Linked DNA regions of Homo sapiens: region 2 is linked to region 1. The links come from fine-mapping of genetic effects on gene expression. Tissue or cell type: whole blood. Region 1 holds a variant in brackets; the other region holds the start of a gene. All regions are shown on one strand. Distances are from middle to middle.

Evidence for each region. PIP is the estimated chance that this variant, and not a neighbour inherited with it, causes the effect.
Region 2: DUSP6 starts here. The variant in region 1 is fine-mapped to the expression of DUSP6 in whole blood (INTERVAL, PIP 0.94).

The regions. Positions count from the first base shown.
Region 1 is chr12:89,097,766-89,105,870 of GRCh38, reverse strand. No RefSeq gene overlaps it. Among named protein-coding and RNA genes, the nearest start is that of LINC02458, 82 kb to the right of the region's middle. The variant T/C (reference allele first, on the strand shown) is at 3,731.
Region 2 is chr12:89,348,501-89,356,605 of GRCh38, reverse strand. It overlaps DUSP6 (dual specificity phosphatase 6), which reads left to right and starts at 4,105. Exons shown (of 3, transcript NM_001946.4): 1 at 4,105-4,966; 2 at 5,581-6,018; 3 at 7,045-8,105. The coding sequence starts at 4,567. The coding sequence ends at 7,352. It overlaps POC1B-DUSP6 (POC1B-DUSP6 readthrough), which reads left to right. Exons shown (of 11, transcript NR_189589.1): 10 at 5,581-6,018; 11 at 7,045-8,105. RefSeq lists enhancers at 1,880-1,929, 4,979-5,613, 6,249-6,883 and a silencer at 2,850-3,159.

The sequences.
Region 1 (8,105 bases):
TGTTATGATGCAGAGATAACTGCTTTATGTTTACTTCTTTTGGTTTTCTGGGGACCACATTTGGATGTAAAGGTCAAGATGTTTGTGTCTGTTTGTTGGGGGAACACATATGTTGAGAGAAATGTGTGTGAGTGTGTGTGTGTGTGTATGTGTGTGTTGTGTGTATGCTGGGTGGAGCCAGGGGATTGGAAAGAGTTTTTAAAAAGAAAATAGAAAAACTCCTTCAGAATAGTGGCATTTTACTCCAAAATCATTTTTTTCATACCAAATAATGGGCAGATGTACAGGCCCTTGCAATTATGATAAAGGGGCCTATCCAAGGATACTTGTTCTTAGGGAGGGCCCAGAAAGATACAGTGGTCTGTGTGAGGCTTATTTTGACTGTGAAGCTAGGCTGATAAGTATGTACCCAGCCAAGGACTCTACAAATATAGTGGGGTTGGTCATTAAGATTAGAAAGAGTTATGCCAATAATATAGCTCAGGCTGTGGCCAAGAATTCCTTAGGTGGCGAAGAATCCCTCAGTTGGCATCCCTAGCTTATTTAAATCAGGTACAATACTCAGGAAAAACACAAGTTTTATATTGATTTTTCTAATTTTCTATTAGATTGGTGCAAAAGAAATTGCAGTTTTTGCCATTCAAAACTAATTAAATAGAGTTGAATTTATTTCTAACTAAATTCTTCATTTAGCAAGCGGTGGCAACCTAAGCTTAGTAAATTCAAGGTAATTTCAGTAGATATGTTATTTTATTCTTCCTGTTTCCTTCTTGATTTTGCATTTACATTTGGGGGGCAAAAATAATATCAAAGCATCAGGGAAAGGTTACTATGCCCCCTGCTATGGTTTGAATATTCATGTCCCCTCCAAAATTTATGTTGAAACTTAATCCCCATTGCAACAGTATTAAGAGGTGGGGCCTTTGGGATGTGATTAGGTTATGAGGGCTCTGCCCTCAAGGATGGGATTAGTGTCCTTAGGTAAAACAGATTGAGGGAGTGAGCTCAGCCCCTTTTTGCCTTTCTGTCCCTTCTACCACATGAGAAAGCAGTGTTTGTGTTTGTCCCTCTGGGGGATGCAGCAGCAAGGCATCATCTTGGAAGCAGACAGCAACCCTCACTGGATACCAAACCAGCTGGCACCTTGATCTCGGACTCCTCAGCCTCCAGTACCATAAGAAATAAATTCCTATTGTTTACAAATTACCCATTTTGTGATATTTTGTTACGGCAGTGCAAATGGACACTCAGGTATCCCCTTATTCCAATGGCAAGGTTTCTTGGAGCTCATTGCAACCCAATGTCACATGTGTGTGTGTTGCTCTTGGCTGCTTGCCGTGTTGCTGGGGTGTATGCATCATGTTGCACCCCATGTTGCTGGGGTGATGCTAGGGTGTGCCTCTGTGAACCTGCCATAGGCCCATCTGCTTATACATATATTACAGCCATGACACTCTACTGTTGTCTTCCTATGCTGGGGTAGACCCTCCCATATCCCAAACTTCACCTGGGAAACAAGGCATGTGCTATTTTTGTTCTCCGACTCCCAAACTGACCTTTGGGTTTTATTTTGTCCTCTCAGTGTCCTGACTTAGACTGGGGGAAAGGGCCAGATACATCGGGTTTTCTCAGAAATACGGACCAGACTAAGAACTTCTTAGTTTTTCTTCGATTCTATTTTTCTTTCATTGATTTTTTTCCCTCTTATGCCATTGTGTCTGCCGTGAGTGTCAAAAAAATTTTCGAAATTCAAAAGTCAAGAATTGGCTGCTTTGTTCTGTTGAGTCATTATCTAGGCAAAAGCTCGGAATGCCTCAATTGCTGCCTGATATGCAATAACAGAAATTGCTGGAAAAGAACAACACATCCAAGAATATACTAAATGTCACCATAGTACAGAGATGTGTGTGTGTGTGTGTATGTGTGTGCATGTGTGAGGACATACACACTTAAAATCTCGGTAAATGATCTCAGGGCAACTCTCAATAAATTGCTCCCTCTTTGTGTTTCCCAAAAGCCCAAGTTAAAGAGCCAATTCATTGATTAAAAATTAGTCATAGTTGAATTTGTGGAATTAATTGGTCCTCATCTTGCTGCTTAGTATACAGTACTGCCAAAATGCCAAAGAGTCAGAATTTAAAACACATCTTAGAGGTCTCTTTGACTGCAGATATGGCATGATCTGCTTGACAGCAGATCCACATTATGGAGAATAACAACCCCTCCACATCATTCTCAGCTGGCCTCAGAAGGACTGACTGCCTTTGATGAACTGATCTTGTGTACTTAGAAGTGAGACCGGCAATGCAGAGTAGATAAGGAAGCCCATCCTAGTGTAATTTGTTTAGAATGGCTTTATTATGTTTTCTGAATATAGAGTAATACTTTCTTAATGCAAAAGTAATCAGAAAATGCAGATAAACGTCTGGATTAAAAAAGAGTACTGGAGGCCGGGCGTGGTGGCTCATGCCTGTAATCCCAGAACTTTGGGAGGCGAGGCGGGCGGATCATGAGGTCAGGAGATCGAGACCATTCTGGCTAACACAGTGAAACCCTGTCTCTACTAAAAATGCAAAAATTTGCCGGGCGTGATGGCGCATGCCTATAATCCCAGCTACTCAGGAGGCTGAGGCAGGAGAATCACTTGAACCTGGGAGGCGGAGGTTGCAGTGAGCTGAGATCGTGCCATTGCACTACAGCTTGGGCAACAAGAGCAAAACTCCATCTCAAAAAAAAAAAAAAAAAAAGGAAAAAGGTACTGGTAGGGGCAGGCGTAATGGCTCACACCTATAATATCAGCACTCTGGGGGTCCATGGTAGGAAGATAGCTTGAGGTCAGAAGTTCAAGACCAGCTTTGGTAACACAGGGAGACCCCCATCTCTACAAAAAGAAATGGCCAGGTGTGGAGGTATGCATTTGTCGTCCTAGTTACTCAGAAGGCTGATGCAGGAGGATCCCTGGAGCCTAGGAGTTCAAGGTTAGAGTGAGCTATGATCATATCACTGCATTCTAGCCTGGGCAACGGAGCAAAATCCCATCTCAAAAAAAAAAAAAGAGTATTAGGTATAATCACACCATCCAGATATAACTCTGTTAATATTTTGTTGTAGACTTTTTCCTATGCCTAAGCAGGATGTGAAGATATATAATATATGATATATATATAACATATTATATATAATATATATTTCAGTCATATTGTACATATTATCTGTAATCTCCATTTCCCTTTAAGCTATATATTGGGAACATCTTTCCATGTTAATGTGTGTGGATCTATATCATGTTTTATATAATTACTTAACCAATCTCTTATTGATGCACATTTAGGTTGTTTTCAGTTTTCATTCTGAAAACACTCCTGTTACAAAAACCCTCAAACATTCTAAAATTGGAATCATCAGGTCAAAGGGAATGGATATTTAATATCACCAAACTTCTCCAGAAAACTGTAGTTTGTATCAATTCAGACTTCAGCCAACAATCTGTTCCAATACCATGAGATTTGAAGGCCAAGCCAATCTGTCTAAATGTCAGCATAACCATAACCTACTGTGGCCATCTTCCCCATCAGCCAGGCATTACAAGTTCATTAATAAGGACCTTCTTAGGGATTATAGTTTTCTCCAGGAGGACATGATTGGAATATATCAATTATCAGGATAAGCAATTTTAAGAAAATCACATAGCCAGACAGTTTAAGTATGTGCTAGTGTGTGTGTGTGTGTG[T/C]GCGCACAGGCACATGCCTGAAGGGAGCAGAAGTGATTACAGGTATGGATACAACATATAAATGTTCCAGATTTTTCTAGGACATCCTTAATTGTATTATTTTGTAATAAAGTGATTTATTTTTCATGTAAATATATTTATATAAGATGTGTTTTATACAACTGCATTTGCCAATTTACAATCGTTTTTGGTCAGCTTCTTTATGTTGCCTTTTCGGCTCAAGAGTACCATCAGTATGGCATGGGTACTATCCTGAAAAAGTAGATGAATGTCCTGTCTCAGGAAGGTGGGGCACTGCCCCATAAAATGAAATCTTTAGTTCTGGGTCATCAGGCAGTTTTTCAGCAGAGGCAGGCTGCTGCAGCTGCTGCTTCCTGTCCTACTCTCCAACTGTGTAAAAAACTGTGGACCACCCCGTGAGCCCCGATCTTCCTCTGAGATAGCCTTGCCCCCATCTGCTCTCAAGTCATCCTCTCTTTATTTCCCCTTCACAGAATGAAGCGTGGGAGTAAGCAATCGGAAAATGCACCATTTTCCTGGAGGTTGAGTGGAGGCTTGGGGATGTTTTTGTTTAAACCTCACTAATCTATTCCAAACAGGTGGCCTTAGGCTTTTTCTCCCACATGCCTGCCCTGCCCTGTCCTGCTTCAGTTTGTGTTTAATGCCACAAATTTGCCTGTCTTCTTCTTTTCCTTCCTTCCTCCATTTAAAAAGATATCCATATCCAACAACAAAAAAGGACCTGGGAAAGCCCTATGTAGGCATGGAGGATGTGACAAAGTCTTGAAATCTCTTCTTATTTGAGACAAGCCAGAAACTGTAATCATAACATGGGAGAGATTAGCAACAGCAAGAAAAATGAAATAGAGAGAGAAGGATAAGAGCAATGGAGGCGGGGAGAGGGGAGACATGCATCTGAGGGGTTGCCACGCAAGTTGTGAATGCCGCGGGATGGAAGGGTAAAGACTGCTGCCTACCCGGTATTGATTTTCAGGACAACGTAATGACTCTTCTGCGGGGAATAAGGAGGGCAATGAAGAAACAAAGGTCAAAGATGTTCCCCAGAGATAAACTGAGAGAAAGCCATCTATCCTCTTCGGCTATAATCATTTCCAGAAGTTTTAAGTATCTTTTGTTTTTTTCTTTTCTTTGTTCAACCTACCTGCAACAAACCAACCCATGAAGGTTTAATTTCATTGTTTGCCTCCATTTCTGATTATGATTTAGGGTGGAAAGGGGAACACATGAGAACCCCACAACCTAGCTTTTTCTGCCCAATCAGGGAGCACATATTTTTACTCTTTTTATGTCACCAATGAACTGATGGTGGGCATTTTCTCTTGCTCATTTGGTAGGCTGCCTATGTCAAGGAAATGAGGAAGATAGTTTATGATTTAGAGCTGACTTTTGAAATTGGGGTAACTGGAATGTGACCTTATCCTGAAGCAGGGCCCTTCTGGAGAGCTGAGAATGGGGGAAGGGCCAGCTGGGAGTGGCTGGTGCTGGTCCTGGGAATAGTGGGGGCTTCCCAGGAGATTCCCAGAGGAAGGGAGAAATAGTAGGTTCTCCTGAGAGCTATTATGCTTCTTTTCTTAGCAGCAACTTTATCTTTCTTGTTCTCTTCGCCCACTGCCTTGCTTTCCCTTGGTTACATAGCACTGACTATAAAGGTGGCAGAAGAGAAGGCTAAATAGCAAACAGCATCTCACACAACTTACTCTATTTAATCTTCACAATGATACTGGCTAGGTAGATATTACATCTTTCTTCACTTTATTGATAAGGAAACTAAGCTCAGCGAGGTAAACGATTTACCTGGGTACGTCCACACAGCAGGGAGCAGAGGCAGTACTTACTAAAATCCAGGCATTCTGACTTCAAGTCCAGAGGATTCCAGTCTAGTACCTGGATGCACTGGTTTTTGCATATGATATTGCTGAGTTTCTTGACAATCTAGACCATACTGTTTTTTTTTTGTGCTATCGTATTTCATACAGCTCCAAGAAAAATTTCAAAAAACAAGGAAAACTTAAAAGGGTCAAAGAACTAAGCTTACAGATTCCCATGCATTCTTTATTCTTATTACTAAATAGCAAACAAAGATACAGAGCTTGTCATTCGCCTAGGTCAAATCACAAACTGGGGTTGAAATTTAAAAAGAAACAAATTGAAGAGATGATATCAGTCAAAACAGGGGTGAGGTGGGGAGAACATGGGAATTTGAGAGTTCTGTTTCTGGATTCAGATTTCCCGGTTTGTGATCCTAGCGTCATTGCTTTCTAGCTATGCGGCCTTAGACAAACTCACCTACGTAAGCTTCAGCATTCTGATCTGTAAAATGGCAATAATAACAGTATGGATCTCATGGGTATTAGGTGAAATCATTCTTGTAGACATATAGTTGCCCTTGTATAAATGATAGCTATTATAATGGATTAAATATGAAGGGGCAGGAAGGGTCTGGGGTGAAGAGGAACAATCCATGGCCTGTTCTCCATCTGGGGTCCTATAGGCAAGTTCTAAGGCAGGGCTCCCCAACTCCCAGGCTGCTCTCCTGAGCTCCGCCTCCTGTCAGATCAGTAGCGGCATTAGATTCTCATAGGAGCGCGAACCCTATTGTGAACTGTGCATGTGAGGGATCAAGGTTGTCCTCCTTATGAGAGTCTAACTAATGCCTGATGATCTGAGGTGGAGCATACCCCCCTCCCCACGGTAGTGGAAAAATTGTCTTCCATGAAACCTGTCCCTGGTGCTAAAAAGGTTAGGGACCACTGTTCTAAGGGCTTGCGACATTTGGGGTCCTACAGGCAAAAGTTCTAAGGACTTCCTTTCCGGAATGGGGGAGGAAGTCACAGTGGAAGAATTTCTTGGCCTTCAATGGAAGCAGTGAAAAAGGAGTAAATCCGATGGACATATGTCTCTGACTTGTGCTGCTGCCAAACAGCTGATGCATTGAGATGGATGAAAAATCGCAAAAATTAAAAAAGAAAATTCTTTTATCATTTCCCCTCCCCCCACCCCCTGCAGTTCCACTGTGAGAAAAGAGCCTTCTGGCTGCCACTGTGGCTGTCGGATTTCTGGGTTTGGGCACTTGCTGCAGCCTGTGGATGCCATGCTGTCAGCCCTTTGCACGCGATTCCTTTAGGAAAGTCCCCGCCACCCCCAGCCTGACTTCTGTTTTACCCAGTGCCTGGAGAGCCAGCTGCACTGCGAAGCCCAGGAAGCAGCGGCTGCCAAGTGTCAGGGGAGGGCAGAGGCCTCCAGATAGTCTTCCTATGCTAGGAAAACGTGGGGGTTGGGGGATGGGTCCAGACTCAAGCTTAACCTGCTCAGGATGACATGCACTTTCCCCAACCTGCTTGTCCTGCAGCCTTTCTTGCCCAGCCAGGCAGGTACGTCCCACACATTGCAAAGTGGCAGGGGTGGAGTGGAGTTGGAGGGCGCTGAAAAGCAATCGCCTCATTATTTCGTTATTTCTTCTTGTACTTCAGACGAGCAGAATGCACCCTAGGAAGTCTATGAATTATTCATTATGCCTAATGGGTGCTCACAAGGGAGCACTGCTGAGATGCAATTAAATGGTGCTTTAATTTGAGAAATATTTATTGGGGTCTAGCGTTAAATGTTCATTCACATCTTTGTGAGCAACATTCTGATGGTAAATAGGGAAAGGAAAACCCAGAGCAATTTGTACAGAAAGGATTCCATATGCAGCTTTCCTCCACCTCTGCTGGGCTTGGGTCAGATCCTGATGTACAGGAGGGATTCTGAGCAGAACAATAAGTAACATTTGTTGAGGATCACCTCTGACGTAGAACTGTATTAAGCACACCTAACATTAAATACCCACCCTAACCCAAAAATGCAATCTAAATCCCTTCCATGGGACGTCACTATTATGCTGATTCGACCTGGTGAGCATGAAGTAACAATTACTCTAGCCATATTGGTAAGACATTTGCCTGCCAGAAGGTGGAAAATAAATCCCACAAAATTCTGGGGGTCTTCCATTGAATTGAAATTTCTGTGCTTCTAATTGTGTGAGACACGCCAAGATATCTCTTCTAAGGTAAAGGATAAGTTGTTGCATCTGGTCACTCCCACATCCTAAAAAGATATTAAACACTTTGGATTTTGGAGACGGTATATACCTCATTTGATGGTGCTACGCCATCAGGGTGACCCAAAAAGTGGCTAGTTTTGAGTGATGCCCAGAACAAAAGAAGGTATTGCAACAGGTCCAGGCCACCTTGCAAGCTGCTCTGCCTTGGCCACATGTGTGAAACTGGAATATAATTTCCACAAGGGCAGAGATTTTGTCTATTTTGTGTAGAATTGTAGTCCTAGGATCTTGAATATTACCCTGCACAAAGTG
Region 2 (8,105 bases), 250 kb before region 1:
TCTCCAATTTTTAAATACAGACCTCTTCATATGAATGATATCCTCTGAAGGGCACTGAGGCCTCTGGAATTAAGGAAGCCTGTAATTCTTCCAACTACTACAGCCCTTATCTCCTAAGAGAGCTTTTCCTCAGTGCCTCACAGGAATGGCAATATCACCACCAACAGCATTCCTTATGCAGGAATGAAGTGGTGATATTTTAAAAATCATCTTCTGAATACCGACTTTGTGCCCTACACTTCTCGTGTGTCATCTCAGTTGTGTCTAATCCTCACAGTCCTTTGAGGGAGGAATATATATTCCCAATGTTACACACTTCCGAATTCCTTTTCTTGCTTTTTCTCTATAGCGCTTTCACTTTCTAATATATAATTATTTGTTTTGTTAATTGGACTGTCCTCATTAGAATGTAAACTTCAGTGAGGCAGGTTATTGTTGTCTGTTTATTCTCTACTGCTTTCCTGGAATCTAGAATAAATGCATCAATGAATGAATGAAGTGAGGCCCAGACTACTACTGAGTGACAGAGGTTTGAACCTAGGCTTATGTGCTGTGCTGACGCACTAGATAACCAATGACACTTGTGAAGATTAGGATCTAGGGCATATTCTAAGAGAGATAAAATATGCAACATTTAGTGAATGTTTGACTGATGAAGGGTTGCGTGCAAAGAAAACCACTGGTGTGTAAAAGGAGCAGGGAAAGCAGCCTCGCTTTTGATCTTTGACATGGAGGATGCAACAGAAAACGTGAGGCTGGAGAAAGCCTGGAGGTCAAAATTCAAAATGCTGACCTTGAAATTCTTCACATGTGGGCAGGGAATACCACGTGGAGGTGAATATAGTGTCCATAACACTCTATGTAATCCGTGCATGTGGGCATCCTTAAGAGTCTGTAAAGGGTTTGGCCTCACGTCTTGACACTCTGTTGCTACTGTGTGCCCTTGGGCAAATTCTTTAATCTTTGTAAATGGGATAATTTACATGTTTTTTCTGAAGACTGTCCGAAATTATGCAAGTAAACACAGAAACAAGACGGTACCCATCATGCAGTTAAGTGCCCAATATGCATTGTTGTATCAGTTTGCTGTGGCTGGAGAACAGCGTGTTCCAAAGGTGACCAGTAGGGAGAAATCAGAAATGTAGCTGGGTCCATTCTGATAACTGTGCTAAAGGATTTTTGATCCTGGTCTACGATAACACCCCCTTTACTTGACAGCTGAATTGGAACGGATTAAATCGGTTAGGGTAGTATCTCAGAGGGCTTTGCTGCAGATGAGCGAGTCCAGGCGGGCTGTCAAGCGAGCCTCAAGGGGCATCTGTGGGATGCCCAAACCGTGTCCCCAAGCCGAGGCCTTTTTACAGGTCCTCAATTCAGAATGAAAAATTAATTCCAACGGCTAATAGCACCCCACCACCACTTTAGGACGTTTCACCGTACCCATTTTGTCGTCACAGGGACCCTATGAAGCAGATAGTTTTATCTTCGTTATGCCGACGTGGAAGACTGCAACTTAGAACGGCTAAATGATTTAACTAAGGGCGCTTACCTAGGAAGAAGCGGGGGACATAATGCAAACGAGGGCCGTCCCACTCCAGAAGCCCTTTTCGCAGCATTTCTAGTACTGAGCAGTCAGAACGCCACTTTAATCAATGCGCCAGGAAACACTGGCATTCCCTTGGCGATAAAGTTCAGAAGCATGGGTAAAACTACAGTTTCGATGTATCCTCCCGAATCTATAGTCATACTCAAGTAGCTGCGTATTAAAACAGGCAAAGTAGAAACCCAACTTCCCTCCCTTTCTCTTCTGTTGGAGGTCCTGTGCTGAACCTCCAACAGGTTTGCTCTTCTCAGTTCCGCTGAAGGGCATCCTGCCTCTTCCCTCCCTGTCCCCAGGTCCCAATGACTGAAACGTCTCGGGGTGGGAACTTCTGTGACAGATCGTGGAGGACAGGGGGAGTCAACTCCAGCGCAGGCCTCCCCCGGCTGAAACTAGAAGATACCCAGTGAAATATACGAGTTTTGTTCCAAGGACTGCCCAAAAATGGTGCGGAGAGGAGCTCGGCAATCCCCACCTTTGTCGAACACGCTCCTCCAGGGGCGGCCTGCCTGAAGCAGAGCTCCAAAATTGGCAACCTAGGCCTCGCAGCCGCCTTTTTTTAGCCTACATTTCCCAAACCAGGGAAGAGGCGGGTGACTAAAAATGCAAATTGCAGCGGGGGTGTTAGCAGGCATGCCCGTGGGTGCGGGGCGTCGGGCGAAGGGAGACCCCGCGACCTTAGGCGCCCTCGCGGTGTTCACGGTAGGCGCAAAGCGCAGCAAGGGACACTCCCCAAAGCCGCACCCCGCCGGACGGCTGCCCCCGCTTCCGCCTCTCAGGCAGCGGTGGGACAAAGCGCGGCCTCTTTTCCGCCGGGGTTTAGGGAGGGAAGGCCGGATTAGGGCCCGCGCCTTCCGGCTGCATCCCTCTCGCGCCGCGCCGGCCGCACACAGGTGGTTTTCCGCTCGGGAGGGGCAGGCTTCGGCACTTTTATATAACAATAGAGCTCTGCGCGCCGGGAACGCGCCTCCCCGCCGCCGCGGCCCCCACCCGGCCACGCCTCCATCCGGCTTCCAATCCGTCCGCCCCGCGGCGCCTGGGCCGAGTGCTGCTCGCTGGCCTGGCCCGCACCTCCCCAAAGTTACCTGCTGGCTTTGCAGCGCGGTAGAGACGTTCCCCTCGACTCCTTGGGAGCGAGGAGCCAGGGGGGTCCCGGCAGGCACTCGTCCTTGCTCCCCCCACCCTCCCCAGATCTCTATGGACCCGGGAGTCCCTCGCTGAGCCCCGCACCCGTCCACTGCGTCGCGCACAGCCCCGTGCCCAAGCGGGGAGACGGGGACGGCGGGGCGGTGGCAGGGAGCGCAGCGCGCAGGCGCGGCTGGTGCTCCCCGGAGTGCCCGGCGCTGGACAAAGGGAGGAGGCGGCGGCAGGAGAGGGCTGGGGAGGCCCCCTCTGACATGCCTCCCTGCCAACTGTAACCAATCGTCGAGCCCCCCTGCCGAGCCCCCGCAGCCTGCAGGTCTTGCGGGAGGACTTCCTCACGCCTCGCCCATGGCGGGGACTGCTGGCCCGGCCCGGCGCGTCCCAGCACACCTCGCTCAGGCAGCCCCGCCAGACCGGCTCCCCCGTCAGAAGCCGAGCTCCTTGCCCAGAAATCATTAACCAGCGCGACCTCCCAGCAGGCGATGGTGGTGGTGGGGCGGGGGGAGAGATATAGATTCCCCCGAACAATGGCTTGTAACTCCCCACGCCGCCGGAGCGGAATACAGTAAAAGCACTGGACTGACCTAAGAGTTTGTTTCTGCACTCTACATTGTTTTAATGAAAATAAAATGTTATTTTAAGAAAAAAGGTTTTCTTCTGATTTTCTGCACAACCAGACGTTTGTTTGTTTGCTTTAAAATGTTTCAACAAAATCCTGGTTTGTTTCGAAATATGTTGGATTAGCATTTAACACCTCATCGGTCACTAAAGCCCAGTCAGTTCACCAGCCCCAACACAGCCTCGGCTAAAAGAACATCAGAGCAAACAGAGCTGGGCCTTTAAAAGTGGCAAACAAATGCCACACACCGCCTAAAGAAGGGGGGTTGGGGGAGGGGAGGGTTAAGGCGAACTTGGGTCCAAATGAGTTTGAAGGGAATACAAAGAACGAAAAGTCAGCACAAGTTTTCCTAAAGCTAGCTCGCGAACGCAAGCGTCGCGAACAAGGGCTTTTGTGCATGCTAATTGCGCCATTGGTGCGCAAAAGTTCCGACGCGAAGTGTGAACTCTCAACAGAAGGAAACATGAGACAACTGAAGTGCCCTGGTTTATGTGCCCTGCTCCTCCTCCGCTGCCGCCTCCCCTTCTTTCTCCTTCCTCCCGCCGAGCCCGCTGTTGCAGCTTGTTTGCACTGGGGCTTATCCGGAGCGGAAATTCCTTTCCGTTTTTGTGAATGACAAACTCATTAACAATTCATCAACACAACCTGTTCCAGCCGGCCCGTCCCCACGGCAACAGCCCCTTCCGCAGCACGCTCATTGGCTGGCCCGGAGAATGTATCCATTGAGACGCTCGCTGTTTGTATCCATTGAGGAGCTGCCTCGCGCAGGGGGTGTGCGAGGCTGAGTCCAAGAGATAGCAAATCGAGTCTTAAATAATCCGGGGAGAAAGACGCCCGGGTAGATTTGAGGTGCAGCCTTGGAGGGAGGGATTAGAAGCCGCTAGACTTTTTTTCCTCCCCTCTCAGTAGCACGGAGTCCGAATTAATTGGATTTCATTCACTGGGGAGGAACAAAAACTATCTGGGCAGCTTCATTGAGAGAGATTCATTGACACTAAGAGCCAGCGGCTGCAGCTGGGTGCAGAGAGAACCTCCGGCTTTACTTCTGTCTCGTCTGCCCCAACCGCTAGCCTCGGCTTGGGTAAGGCGAGGCGGAATTAAACCCCGCTCCGAGAGCGGCAGCTTCGCGCGCGGTGCGCTCGGCCTATGCCTGCCCCGAGGGGCGTCTGGTAGGCACCCCGCCCTCTCCCGCAGCTCGACCCCCATGATAGATACGCTCAGACCCGTGCCCTTCGCGTCGGAAATGGCGATCAGCAAGACGGTGGCGTGGCTCAACGAGCAGCTGGAGCTGGGCAACGAGCGGCTGCTGCTGATGGACTGCCGGCCGCAGGAGCTATACGAGTCGTCGCACATCGAGTCGGCCATCAACGTGGCCATCCCGGGCATCATGCTGCGGCGCCTGCAGAAGGGTAACCTGCCGGTGCGCGCGCTCTTCACGCGCGGCGAGGACCGGGACCGCTTCACCCGGCGCTGTGGCACCGACACAGTGGTGCTCTACGACGAGAGCAGCAGCGACTGGAACGAGAATACGGGCGGCGAGTCGGTGCTCGGGCTGCTGCTCAAGAAGCTCAAGGACGAGGGCTGCCGGGCGTTCTACCTGGAAGGTACGCGCCCAGGGAACTCCGCGCGCGGGGCAGGGCTAGGGGCGCAGGGCTGCGGGCGGGGCGCGTGGATTGAAAATACCTCTGCTCCGCTCAGCTGGAGCTTCGGAGCCGCGCTGCCCGCCTAGGGACCGGCAGCCGGCGAGGTAGGGGCCGCGAACCGCGCGTTCCGCACCAGAGAACCGGGCCGGCTCAGAATCCACTCGCTTCCGGCTGCGGGTACCGGCGGTTTCTTTCTAACGGGTTCTGCGCCTTCTTAGCCAGAACATCCTCCACCATCACCCTGTTTTCTATCGTTCGATTTTGAATTAAGATTTGCAGGACGGGAGAGATTGTTGGGGATGCAAATTGGCACATCTTAGCTCTCAAAATATTCCAAAAAGTTGCCATTTTGTCTATTTCCGGATTCAAGCGAATAAGGGTTCCCTGGCGAGGCGGGCCCGTTCGTTCCATTCCCGATGGTGCACATTTAAAGTGTGTTTCTCTTATAGATGGTTCTGTATGTAGGGGGTTCGTAGGATGCTTGTGGTGTTTCTTGCGCCGGGCTGCGGTTCTTACAAGCTGTGAAAACTACTACGGCTTCTCAGGTTAGATGATTGCTTTTCTCGTTCTGGCAGGTGGCTTCAGTAAGTTCCAAGCCGAGTTCTCCCTGCATTGCGAGACCAATCTAGACGGCTCGTGTAGCAGCAGCTCGCCGCCGTTGCCAGTGCTGGGGCTCGGGGGCCTGCGGATCAGCTCTGACTCTTCCTCGGACATCGAGTCTGACCTTGACCGAGACCCCAATAGTGCAACAGACTCGGATGGTAGTCCGCTGTCCAACAGCCAGCCTTCCTTCCCAGTGGAGATCTTGCCCTTCCTCTACTTGGGCTGTGCCAAAGACTCCACCAACTTGGACGTGTTGGAGGAATTCGGCATCAAGTACATCTTGAACGTCACCCCCAATTTGCCGAATCTCTTTGAGAACGCAGGAGAGTTTAAATACAAGCAAATCCCCATCTCGGATCACTGGAGCCAAAACCTGTCCCAGTTTTTCCCTGAGGCCATTTCTTTCATAGGTGAGACTAATTAATAGTCGTCGCTCTGACATTTAAATGCAAAATTCCTAGCCATTCATAGAGTTTAAGCTGTTAATCGTTCTTGCTGCTTGCTAATTTGTCTGACTGCAGGTCTCTAATGTTCCTAGAGCGTCCTTAATTCTGGTTTATCTTCTTGCTAAAGGAAGAAAACCTGCCTTTTGACATGGCTGCAGATCACAGGTGTATTTGAAACGCTGTTTCTTGAATCTTTGAATTCAGTCATTGACAGTCGTTCATAATCGGACAACAGATTTTTCCCCCCAGTCTTTGGACTCAGGGGAAGGGTCAGATAGAAGTACTCACTATAGACAGGAATTCCAGCATTGCTTTATAATTTAAAAACATCTAGGAGTTATTTTAGGACATCAAGTTAGTTGTTGGAAAGCAGTATGAATGCTGAATGTTATCCAGTTGAATGATGCGGTGATACTGGTAACAGTGAGACAGTGGGTAACCTGAGCCCAGCAGGAAGAACTGTGGGCTGGAAGCCTGGGAGAAGTGAATCTCCAGGCATTGTAATGCATTTCCTATTACAAAGGAACTCATTTTCAGGCCGTGTCGACATCCTGTTCCTCCTAATGGGCCGTCCCCTGTGACTTCCCTCTCTCTTTTAAAATGCCTGAATACCTCCATTGTTAGCTGCACAACATTTGGAGCATAATTTAATAGACCCTTGCAGTCTGGTTGTCTGTGTAAAAGGCATTCACGAACATATTGCAGGGTTTCTGGTATTCACATGCCGAGGCAAAGAATGCACCCATTAAGGAGTTTTTTGTTGGCAGAAACTTAATACAAAAGCTCTCTTTTCAGAAAATATCTGAAATATGTAATTGTGTCCAGTGTACATGTTTCATTTCAGTGATACATTTTCTGCTGCTTGTAGGGCTCAACTGCCACACACAACTATTATTATTATTATGTTTTCAAGTTCAGTTTTTAGACTGATCATTCACAAAGGGTGGTTTTCAGTCTGCTGAGATCTTGCTTTTCTTTTTGTGTTCACAGATGAAGCCCGGGGCAAGAACTGTGGTGTCTTGGTACATTGCTTGGCTGGCATTAGCCGCTCAGTCACTGTGACTGTGGCTTACCTTATGCAGAAGCTCAATCTGTCGATGAACGATGCCTATGACATTGTCAAAATGAAAAAATCCAACATATCCCCTAACTTCAACTTCATGGGTCAGCTGCTGGACTTCGAGAGGACGCTGGGACTCAGCAGCCCATGTGACAACAGGGTTCCAGCACAGCAGCTGTATTTTACCACCCCTTCCAACCAGAATGTATACCAGGTGGACTCTCTGCAATCTACGTGAAAGACCCCACACCCCTCCTTGCTGGAATGTGTCTGGCCCTTCAGCAGTTTCTCTTGGCAGCATCAGCTGGGCTGCTTTCTTTGTGTGTGGCCCCAGGTGTCAAAATGACACCAGCTGTCTGTACTAGACAAGGTTACCAAGTGCGGAATTGGTTAATACTAACAGAGAGATTTGCTCCATTCTCTTTGGAATAACAGGACATGCTGTATAGATACAGGCAGTAGGTTTGCTCTGTACCCATGTGTACAGCCTACCCATGCAGGGACTGGGATTCGAGGACTTCCAGGCGCATAGGGTAGAACCAAATGATAGGGTAGGAGCATGTGTTCTTTAGGGCCTTGTAAGGCTGTTTCCTTTTGCATCTGGAACTGACTATATAATTGTCTTCAATGAAGACTAATTCAATTTTGCATATAGAGGAGCCAAAGAGAGATTTCAGCTCTGTATTTGTGGTATCAGTTTGGAAAAAAAAATCTGATACTCCATTTGATTATTGTAAATATTTGATCTTGAATCACTTGACAGTGTTTGTTTGAATTGTGTTTGTTTTTTCCTTTGATGGGCTTAAAAGAAATTATCCAAAGGGAGAAAGAGCAGTATGCCACTTCTTAAAACAGAACAAAACAAAAAAAGAAAATTGTGCTCTTTTCTAATCCAAAGGGTATATTTGCAGCATGCTTGACTTTACCAATTCTGATGACATCTTTACGGACACTATTATCACTAAGACCTTGTTATGGCGAAGTCTTTAGT